Linked DNA regions of Homo sapiens. The protein of the gene in region 2 purifies or fractionates together with the protein of the main gene of each other region. This does not show direct contact. Each region holds a gene or a part of one and is shown on either strand. Other genes may lie near its edges.

The links. Proteins that work in one complex are often made in the same cells at the same time.
Region 1: the proteins of PIK3IP1 (region 2) and FAM114A2 purify together in Homo sapiens (affinity purification with mass spectrometry; one large-scale study listed by BioGRID and IntAct). This does not show direct contact.

The regions. Positions count from the first base shown.
Region 1 is NC_000005.10:154,020,655-154,026,219, reverse strand, and holds part of FAM114A2 (protein FAM114A2), read left to right. Parts: intron 1-5,565.
Region 2 is NC_000022.11:31,284,899-31,290,463, reverse strand, and holds part of PIK3IP1 (phosphoinositide-3-kinase-interacting protein 1 isoform 1 precursor), read left to right. Parts: intron 1-764; coding exon 765-965; intron 966-1,070; coding exon 1,071-1,149; intron 1,150-5,565. UniProt on the Homo sapiens protein: Negative regulator of hepatic phosphatidylinositol 3-kinase (PI3K) activity.

The DNA.
Region 1 (5,565 bases), on a different chromosome or scaffold from region 2:
ATGGGGGCAGTTGGCCTTATGCCCATGTCTCCCTGCCTCCTTCCAACCAAACCCTTTGTGGCTTCTCAAGGTCTAATCTTGCAACTCACATCTTTGCCTATTTTTGCAGTTAGAAAGCTGTTCTCATCAGATTCTTGCCTCAGTTTGACTGGTCATTCATATGAGCTTTCATATTCCTAGGTACTTTACCTCTGCCTCTCTGACTCTTGTAACCCCTGATTCTGTCTTGAATTGAAGCATGCAGGATGGCAGTTATCTAAAATGTGGGTGATAGTTTGTCTTTTTTTATTTTGAAAACTCTTATACCATATTTTAATATCTTCATTTCTCAGAAAATGTAAATGTAGATACTATGTATATTTGCAAAATTATCAGGAAATGAGATGGGTCAGGAAATGAGATGGCTGACGTAAAGTATAATTGCCAGGCAACTGAATATTAAGTTCTAAGGGTTGTTTTATTGACATTTTAGCTGGAAATATTTCTAAGATATACACTAACTGACCTTTTTTTTTTAAAAAAGTGGAATCTAATGAATACAGTTTTGCCTTTTCTTCATGAAATAATCAGTTATAAACATTAAAAGTGAATGGAAAAATTCTCTCAGGTTTCATTAAGACATAGGGCCAATCACCCATGTAGTAGGTTAAATCAGTGATGAACAAAGTGTGGTCTGTAGACCCTTGAATTCCCAGAACCCTTTCAGGGAGTCTATGAGTCAGAACTCTGCATCATAATACTAAGATGTTGTCTACTTAGGAATTTTTTAAAAATTATAATGAGTTTTTTTTCTGCTTTGGCATTTGTGCTGTTGGTGAATAACAATGATGCATAAAATTGCTGGTGCCATAACATGGATCAAGATGTTAGCAGACTCTACTAGTGTCATTGCATTTTCATTGCCATGCATTGGCAGTTAAAAAAAAAAGTGCCAGTTTTATTTAATCTTGTCCTTGATGAAGCAGTAAAAATTATTAATTTTATTAAATCTTTACCTTTAAGTATGCATCTTACAAATATTCTGTGTGATGCCTACTGAAGTATGATGGTTGTCTCAGGAAAAGCACTTACATTATTTGAGTTGTGAGCTGAACTATGTGCTTTTTTCGTGGAATACCATTTTTACTTGAAAGGATAACAGTCACAGAGACTATTCAGAATAGGATAATTGGTACACATTTTCCTGAAAATGAATGAAGTGAACCTTTTCTTCAAGGAGAGCAACTAATTTATTTGTGAGTCATGATAAAAATTTAAGTGAAGGTTGAAACTTTGTAAAACATATTTGCTGCTGTGGTGAGCTTGACAGCTTCCCAGTGCTTATAGACTCTTCTTATGAAATTGGTGGTGATCATATTTGTTAAAATATCACTTTTTGATATTTTAACAAGGAAATGTGTCAGCATTTGGAAAGTCTGCATAACTCAGAGAACCAATATTTTCTAAATGTCAAATCACCATGGGTAAAAGACCTAATGGATTTTAATTTAGTGTACAAAATTTTATGATATGGTTTCAGGTATACTGCAATATGGTTCATTGCAACTAATTTTTAAGAAACGACCACTTGTTGAGTTTTAATGTGGTATTAAAGAATATTAATAATGATCTGAAAAGGCTATTAAAATACTTCTTCCCTTTCCAACTATGTATCTTTGTAAAGTTGGATTTTCTTCATATACTTAAAGCAACATAACAGACTGAATATAAAAGTAGATAAGAGAATTTAGCTGTCATCTGTTAAACTAGATATTAAAGAGATTCAACCCTGATGGCACTGTTCTCACTAAACTTTTTCTTTTTTGAAAAATATAGTTTTTTAAAATAAAAAGTAGGTTTATGTTAATAAGTGGTATGGGTTTACTGTTTTGAATGAATTAATAAACACTTTGTTTTAGCTTTATATAAATATTTATAACTTTTTATATGTATATGTATAAAACTTACACTAAAAAAGCTCTTTAATGTTCTCAGAAAGTTTTACAAGAACAAGGTCCTGAGACCAACAAGTTTGAGAATTACCAGATTAAATGACCTAAACTGCAATGCTTTTTAGAAATGTCTCTGATTGCTTTTTAGAATTGTACATCTTTATTTCTTTCTGTTCATTTATCTGTTCATCTTTTACTTCACTGTTAGCTGGCTTCTGATATCCCCTGAATCTTATTTGGTTTTCTATTTCTAATCTGTGGGTGAGAAACCAGGTAACTAATTTTATTTGAGATGTCTATTAAAAGCAAAGAGCTCTGAGTGAGGGTCTTAGAGTCTTTCTTGTGACAGGAAACATAAAGTTAACTGTGTGGATTCTCTACAAACAGGGACTTTTTTTTCTTTTTCTTTTTAAATCAGTTAAGGAGAAGAAATATACATGTATATCATTTATAATTACATAGTTATCTTTACCAGTGCTTTTTGTCTTCTGTTTTTTTCAATTTTTTTTATTTCCATAGGTTATCAGGGAACAGGTGGTGTTTGATTACATAAGTTCTTTACTGGTGATTTGTGAGAATTTGGTGCACCTATCACCTGAGCAGTATACACTGCACCCAATTTGTGCACCTGAGCAGTATACACCACACTCCCTTCCCATCCTTTCCCCCTGAGTCCCCGAAGCCCATTGTGTCATTCTTAAGCCTTTGCATCCTCATAGCTTAGCTCCTACTTGTGAATGAGAGCATATGATGTTTGGTTTTCCATTCCTGAGTTACTTTACTTAGAACAATAGCATCCAGTCTCATCCAGGTCGCTGCGAATGCATTAATTCATTCGTTTTTATGGCTGAGTAGTATTCCATCATGTATATATATACCACAGTTTCTTTATCTACTCGTTGATTGATGGGCATTTGAGTTGGTTCCACATTTTTGCACTTTTGAATTGTGCTGCTTAAACATGCGTGTGCAAGTATCTTTTTCTTTTTTAAATTATTTTATTAGTATACTTTAAGTTTTAGGGTACATGTGCACAACGTGCAGGCCTGTTACGTATGTATACATGTGCCGTGTTGGTTTGCTGCACCCATCAACTCATCATTTATGTTAGGCACTTCTCCCAATGCTATCCCTCCCCCATCCCCTGACCCCACGACAGGCCCAGGTGTGTGATGTTCCCCGCCCTGTGTCCAAGTGTTCTCATTGTTCAGTTCCCACCTATGGGTGAGAACAAGTGGTGTTTGGTTTTCTGTCCTTGTGATAGTTTGCTCAGAATGATGGTTTCCAGCTTCATCCATGTCGCTACAAAGGACATGAACTCATCCTTTTTTATGGCTGCATAGTATTGCATGGTGTATATGTGCCACATTTTCTTAATCCAGTCTATCATTGATGGACATTTGGGTTGGTTCCAAGTCTTTGCTATTGTGAATAGTGCTACAATAAACATATGTGTGCATGTGTCCTCATAGTAGCATGATTTATAATCCTTTGGGTATATATCCAGTAATGGGATCACTGGGTCAAATGGTATTTCTAGTTCTAGATCCTTGAGGAATCACCACACTGTCTTCCACAATGGTTGAACTAGTTTACACTCCCACCAACATTGTAAAAGCATTCCTATTTCTTCACATCCTCTCCAGCACCTGTTGTGTCCTGACTTTTTAATGATCGCCATTCTAACTGGTGTAAGATGGTATCTCATTGTGGTTTTGATTTGCATTTCTCTGATGACCAGTGATGATGAGCATTTTTTCACGTGTCTATTGGCTGCATACATGTCTTCTTTTGAGACATATCTGTTGATATCCTTTGCCCACTTTTTGATGGGGTTGTTTGATTTTTTCTTGTAAATTTGTTTAAGTTCTTTGTAAATTCTGGATATCAGCCCTTTGTCAGATGGGTAGATTGCAAACATCTTCTCCCATTCTGTAGGTTGCCTGTTCACGCTGATGGTAGTTTCTTTTGCTGTGCAGAAGCTCTTTAGTTTAATTAGATCCCATTTATCTGTTTTGGCTTTTGTTGCCATTGCTTTTGGTGTTTTAGTCATGAAGTCCTTGCCCATGCCTATGTCCTGAATGGTATCGCCTAGGTTTTCTTCTAGGGTTTTTATGGGTTTAGGTCTAAGTCTAATCCATCTTGAATTGATTTTTGTATAAGGTGTAAGGAAGGGATCCAGTTTCAGCTTTCTCCATATGGCTAGCCAGTTTTCCCAGCACCATTTATTAAATAGGGAATCCTTTCCCCATTGCTTGTTTTGGTCAGGTTTGTCAAAGATCAGATGGTTGTAGATGTGTGATGTTATTTCTGAGGCCTCTGTTCTGTTCCATTGGTCTATATTTCCCGTTTGGTACCAGTACCATGCTGTTTTGGTTACTGTGGCCTTGTAGTATAGTTTGAAGTCTATATGATGCCTCCAGCTTTGTTCTTTTGGCTTAGGATTGTCTTGGCAATGCGGGCTCTTTTTTGGTTCCATATGAACTTTACAGTAGTTTTTTCCAATTCTGTGAAGAAAGTCATTGGTAGCTTGATGGGGATGGCATTGAATCTATAAATTACCTTGGGCAGTATGGCCATTTTCACGATATTGATTCTTCCTCTCTATGAGCATGGAATGTTCTTCCATTTGTTTGTGTCCTCTTTTATTTCGTTGAGCAGTGGTTTGTGGTTCTCCTTGAAGAGGTCCTTCTCATCCCTTGTAAGTTGGATTCTTACGTATTTTATTCTCTTTGAAGCAATTGTGAATGGGAGTTCACTCATGATTTGGCTCTCTGTTTGTCTGTTATTGGTATATAAGAATGCTTGTGATTTTTCAACATCGATTTTGTGTCCTGAGACTTTGCTGAGGTTGCTTATCAGCTTAAGGAGATTTTGGGCTGAGACAATGGGGTTTTCTAAATATACAATCATGTCATCTGCAAACAGGGACAATTTGACTTCCTCTTTTCCTAGTCGAATACCCTTTATTTCTTTCTCTTGCCTGAGTGCCCTGGCCAGAACTTCCAACACTATGTTGAATAGGAGCGGTGAGAGAGGGCATCCCTGTCTTGTGCCAGTTTTCAAAGGGAATGCTTCCAGTTTTTGCCCATTCAGTATGATACTGGCTGTGGGTTTGTCATAGATAGCTCTTATTATTTTGAGATACGTTCCATCAATACCTAGTTTATTGAGAGTTTTTAGTATGAAGGGCTGTTGAATTTTGTCAAAGGCCTTTTCTGCATCTGTTGAGATAATCATGTGGTTTTTGTCGTTGGTTCTGTTTACGTGATGGATTACGTTTATTGATTTGCATATGTTGAACCAGCTTTGCATCCCAGGGATAAAGCCAACTTGATCTTGGTGGATAAGCTTTTTGGTGTGCTGCTGGATTCGGTTTGCCAGTATTTTATTGAGGATTTTTGCATTGATGTTCATCAGGGATATTGGTCTAAAATTCTCTTTTTTTGTCGTGTCTCTGCCAGGCTTTGGTATCAGGATGATGCTGACCTCATAAAATGAGTTAGGGAGGATTCCTTCTTTTTTTATTGATTGGAGTAGTTTTAGAAGGAATGGTAACAGCTCCTCTTTGTCCCTTTGCTAGAATTCGGCTGTGAATCCATCTGATCCTGGACTTTTTTTGGTTGGTAAGCTA
Region 2 (5,565 bases):
AAAGCAGCAAGAGAGTTTTCTAGGTTTAAATGGGATAATCAAAATAAAGCATTTATTTTTTATTTTTTATTTTTTGAGACGGAGTCTCGTTCTGTCACCCAGGCTGGAGTGCAGTGGCGCAATTTCGGCTCACTGCAACTTCCGCCTTCCGCGTTACAGTGATTCTCCTGCCTCAGCCGCTTGAGTAGCTGGGATAACAGGCGTGCACCACCACGCCCAGCTAATTTTTGTATTTTTAGTAGAGACGGGGTTTCACCATGTTGGCCGGGCTGCTCTCTAACTCCTGACCTCAGGTGATCCGACCGTCTGGCCTCCCAAAGTGCTGGGATTACAGGCGTGAGCCACCGCTCCCGGCACAAAGTAAAACATTTTACCTAAGGACTGGCACAGAGCGTACGCTTAGATGTGAGCTGCTCAAAGGAAGCATGGGTTGTTTCCTGAAGTAGAAGTGGGGGGAATCCCCTGCAGAAGAACGCAACCGAGAGGGGCCTTGGGAAATAGCAAGGATTTGGACAGATAAAGACGTGGGAGGTAGGAGAGAAGCCCTTCCCTACGGCCTTCCTCTCTCATTTGCCTTGTCCCTGAGATGGTTCAGCCCTCTCAGGCCTGATCTTACCTCTGGGGCAGAATTTGACTTTGGGTTGTGTGTGGGGGGAAATTCTTAGGTGACCCACCTTCATCTACCCTAACACTCAGGCCAGGTTCAGCTGTGGAATTCACTCAGGGCAGTCCCTGATGAGAGCTGTTTCCCACCTCATCTCCAGAGACCACCTCCCAGGCCCTGCCAGCCTTCACGACAGAAATCCAGGAAGCGTCTGAAGGGCCAGGTGCAGATGAGGTGCAGGTGTTCGCTCCTGCCAACGCCCTGCCCGCTCGGAGTGAGGCGGCAGCTGTGCAGCCAGTGATTGGGATCAGCCAGCGGGTGCGGATGAACTCCAAGGAGAAAAAGGACCTGGGAACTCTGGGTATGACGGTCCCCCACCCCTGCCCTCGTTGGGATTCATCAAGAGATGTCATTTGCTGATTGTCTAGGGTGTGGCTAATGGGACCTTGTGTCCTATCCTTGGCAGGCTACGTGCTGGGCATTACCATGATGGTGATCATCATTGCCATCGGAGCTGGCATCATCTTGGGCTACTCCTACAAGAGGTCAGTAGCTTCTCTTCTGGGCCCTCTTAGGAGGAGGGGAGGAAGGTACACAAAGTCAAACTTTGTGGCTTTCTTACCCAAAAGGAAGCAAGATGTTGAAAATCAGCTCAAGATGTAGAGACTTGGTCCTAGTCTTTATCTGCTGACCTTGGACAAACCCTTTCCTTTGGTGCCTTTACACCTCACTTAAAAGCCTTGTGAGGGATGTTCTTGTTCCGCATTTTACAAATGAAGAAGCCTCTGTCAGAGACTTGCTCAAAGTCACATAGCCTAGGAGTGGCAGAACCTGGATTCAGACCCAGCTCTTTTGATAGCAAATTCCCTGCTGTCTGATCCCACATGCCTGGCATTGAAGTGAGTGGCACTGCAGAAATCAGGCTTGACACTGATTGCAGGGACCTTAAGACCAAATTCTTTCTGTGAGTTATAAAATTCTGCTACTAGAAAAGGTTTCCAGCCACTGTTGCAGTTGAGGCTTAAATTTCCTGAGCTATAAGCAGTGGGATCTCCTCTGCTAGGGAAGAAAAAAGTGAGTTGGAGAACAGAAAGTCTGTTTGCCACTCTTCACCACGTGTGAGAAAGCCAAAGAGGCTACTTGTGAAACTCAAGGACATGACCTGTGGCTGGGACAGCAGGAGAAGAATGCTTATTTTGAAAGGTCCCACGAGATGTCCGTCAGTGACTGGTGCATGATGGTAAGCCAGACTGGCATTCATCTTTACAGCACTGGCTGATTGTGGAAAATTATTTGCCATTCTTGGGCAAAATCGGGGGATTTGACTTCTAGCCCTGGGTGTCTGTAATATTCTCCTCTGTGGTCTGAGAAAACTTCCTGTGAGGAAAGTGACACAGTAGCCTGCATTTTTCCTTCCTTTCCTCCCTCCCTCCCTCCCTTCCTTCCTTCCCCTTTCTTTCCTTCCTTTCTTTGATTTTTTTTTTTCAGGGTCTCGCTCTATTGCCTAGGCTTGAGTGCAGTGGTGCGATCACGGCTCACTGCAGCCTCAACCTCCCAGGGCGCAAGTAATTACCCCCACCCACCCCCACTGAGTAGCTGGGACTACAGGCATGTCCCACCATGCCTGGCTGATTTTTAATTTTTTTATAGAGACAGGGTCTCACTGTGTTGCCCAGGCTAGTCTCAAACTCCTGGGCTCAAGCAGTCCTCCTACCTCAGCCTCCCAAAGTGTATAGGCATGAACCACCATGCCTGGCATGCAGCCTGCATTTTCCAGTGATGAGGGCCATGTCTGAGCCCACAGCCTCAGTGGATCACCCAGCAGGGCATCTTTAAAGGCCTTGTAGTCAACCTCCTCATTACAGATGAAAAAGGGGAAGTTTGGGTATAATAATAACAGCAGTAGCAAACATGTACCGTATGCCAGACACTGCTTGAAGCACATGCTTTAACTCATAATCACCCTTATGAGGTAAATGCTGTCATCTCCAATTTACAGATGAGGAAACTGAGGCAAGAGGGGATTATATACGTTACCTGAGGTTACACACCTAGCATTTGGTGGAGAGAAGTCCTTTAACTAGCTATCTCTGTGACCCTGGGCAAATTGCTTCAATTTCCTACTCCACATCATGGTGTGGAGCTATGGCTTTTGACTACTTAGCTCAGGGTGTGGCACATAGTAGGTGGTCAGTAAATGATGGCTGTTTTTCTTTTCTATAAAATGTGTGGCTGGGCGTGGTGGCTCACACCTGTAATCCTAGCACTTTGGGAGGCCGAGGCGGGCAGATCATGAGGTCAGGAGTTCGAGACCAGCCTGGCCAACATAGTGAAATCCTGTCTCTACTAAAAATACAAAAAATTAGCCAGGCGTGGTGGCGGGCACTTGTAATCCCGGCTACTTGGGAGGCTGAGGCAGGAGAATCGCTTGAACCTGGGAGGCTGAGGTTGCAGTGAGCCGAGATTGTGCCACTGCACTCCAGCCTGGGCGACAGAGCCATACTCCGTCTCAAAAAAAAAAAAAAAAAAATGTAGGTAATGGACCAGGCGTAGTGGCTCACACCTGTAATCCTAGCACTTTGGGAGGCAGAGGTGGGTGGATCGCTTGAGCCCAAGAGTTCGAGACCAGCATGGGCAACATGGCAAAACCCTGTCTCTACAAAAAAATACAAAAATTAGCCAGGCATGGTGGTGGGCGCCTGTAGTCCTAGTTACTAAGGAGGCTGAGATGGGAGGATCACCTGAGCCTGGGAAGTCGCTATGGTGAGCCATGATTGTGCCACTGCACTCCAGCCTGGGTGACAGAGTGAGATGCTGTCTCAAAAAAAAAAAAAAAAAAAAAAAAGTGGGTAATGGACTAGTACTCTCTGATTTCTTATGATGCAGGAAGCAGAGGTCCAGAGAGGGAAAGTATTGACTTGAGAGGACATCCTGACGCCCAGTCTGAGGTTGTTTCCCACAATGGGATGCTTGACATGCAGGTCCAGGGACACCTGCTTGTTCATTTCAGAGTTAATGACATAGTGGCCCTGGCCTTACAATTCATAAGCAGACCTAAGCCACATTGGCTGAGTTTAGTCCTTGAACTATCTCCTTTTTCCTCAGCCACCCAACAGCATTTGGCTGTCCTGCAATCCTGTGACAGTTTCCAGGCCTTCCAGGTGCTTGAACTGACTAAACATTCTTAATTCTGAGCTCAGTTCTGGTGTCCAGTGGAAGTCTTTTTTCTTCTAGATTTGTTCCTCTAGGCTGTCACGAGACTGCCCTGAGGCCTAAAATTTATTTTCCTGTAAACTCAGGGCAAGGCACCCAGTCATCAGACTCCCCGTCACTAACGACCAGATCACCCCTTTCTTCAGCAGAACTGCTCTGAGAACAGACTGTACAACAGGAAACCGCATGTGGGCTTAAAAACAAGCTTGCAGCCTTCATCTCTTCCTAAAGTCAGAGAGCAGAGTGTCCTGAAAAGAGCTGTAGGTTGAGTGTGGGTTCAGGTGCCCTCTGAGCCTTGGTATCTTGTCTGTTAAATGGGGATATATCCTCCCTCCACATCTACCCATCTAAGATTATAAGTATTAAATGTAAACAGAAACAATAGCACACCAATCAGGTAATAATCACAATAGCAGCCAACATTTATTTCATGCTTTCTTAATAAGTAAGGCCCTACTGTATGCTCTTCCCTGATTATCTTTTTTTCTTAATTTTTTTTTTTTTGAGACAGAGTCTCGCTGTGTCGGCTCACTGCAACCGCCGCCTCCTGGGTTCAAGTGATTCTCCTGCCTCAGCCTCCCGAGTAGCTGGGATTAGAGGCACCCGCCACCATGTCCTGCTAATTTTTGTATTTTTAGTAGAGACGGGGTTTCACCATGTTGGCCAGGCTGGTCTTGAACTTCTAACCTCAGGCAATCCACCCGCCTCGGCCTCCCAAAGTGTTGGGATTATAGGCATGAGCCACTGCACCCAGCCTCCTGATTACCTTGACTAAGCCTCACAACCACACTAGGAGCACTGTTAGATTTTACAGTGAGGAGCTGAGACCTAGCAGAGTTAAGTACAATGGCCAGGCTACACAGCTAGTAATGTATGTCTGAGGAGTATTAGTATCTCCAGCAAGTCCAGTGAGGCCAAGTAGCCTCATGTAAATTTGCTTTGAATTGCAAAGGAAAGTAGGAAAAATAGAAATTTAAAAAAAGGCTGGGTTTAAAGTCAGAAGAAACAAGATCTAGTTCTGGAACTTTCACCTATTCTGGATGTGACACTGGACAAGTTATTTACCTTCTCTGGACCTCAATTTCTTCATCTGTACTGTAAGGGGGTTAGATATGGTGATACTCCCAACTCTATTTCCTAAAAAGACAATATTGCCGGTGCTAAGACTGGGTTCAAATCCCAGCTCTGCCATTTGCTTGAACAAATAGTGTAACTTCTCTGCATCTGCCTTCCTATCTATGAAACAGATCAAAATAGATACCACATAGGTTGTGAGGATGAAATTGGACAGTATAGTTTAGGCATACAATTGGTGTTCTATAGCCTGGGAGAGGAAGTTGGAGGCAGCATACAGTAGGGCCTTACTTATTAAGAAAGCAGGAAATAAATGTTGGCTGCTCTTGTGATTATTACCTGTAGCTGCCTTGGGAACTTTTCCTGAGCAGCAGTGTGGCACAGCACTGCCTCTGACTGGGAAAATAGCAGCGGCTCAGAGTAATAATTGAAGACGACCTGTGTAGTCTGAATGAGGTCTGTGGTGCTTCCATACTCTGGGAGAGGAAGTTGGAGGTAGGCAGCAGCTTCCTCTACACCTGCTCTCTCTGGCCAGCTCAGCTCCCAGTCCCACCCTGGCCTTGGAGCAAGCAGTCAGGGTAGGTACTGTAAGCCTTGAGCTCTGCCAAAGGCCATGAGGCTTGCCTAATGGGATGGAGCTTTTCCCTGGCTGGGATGGGTGGGCAGGCACCAGG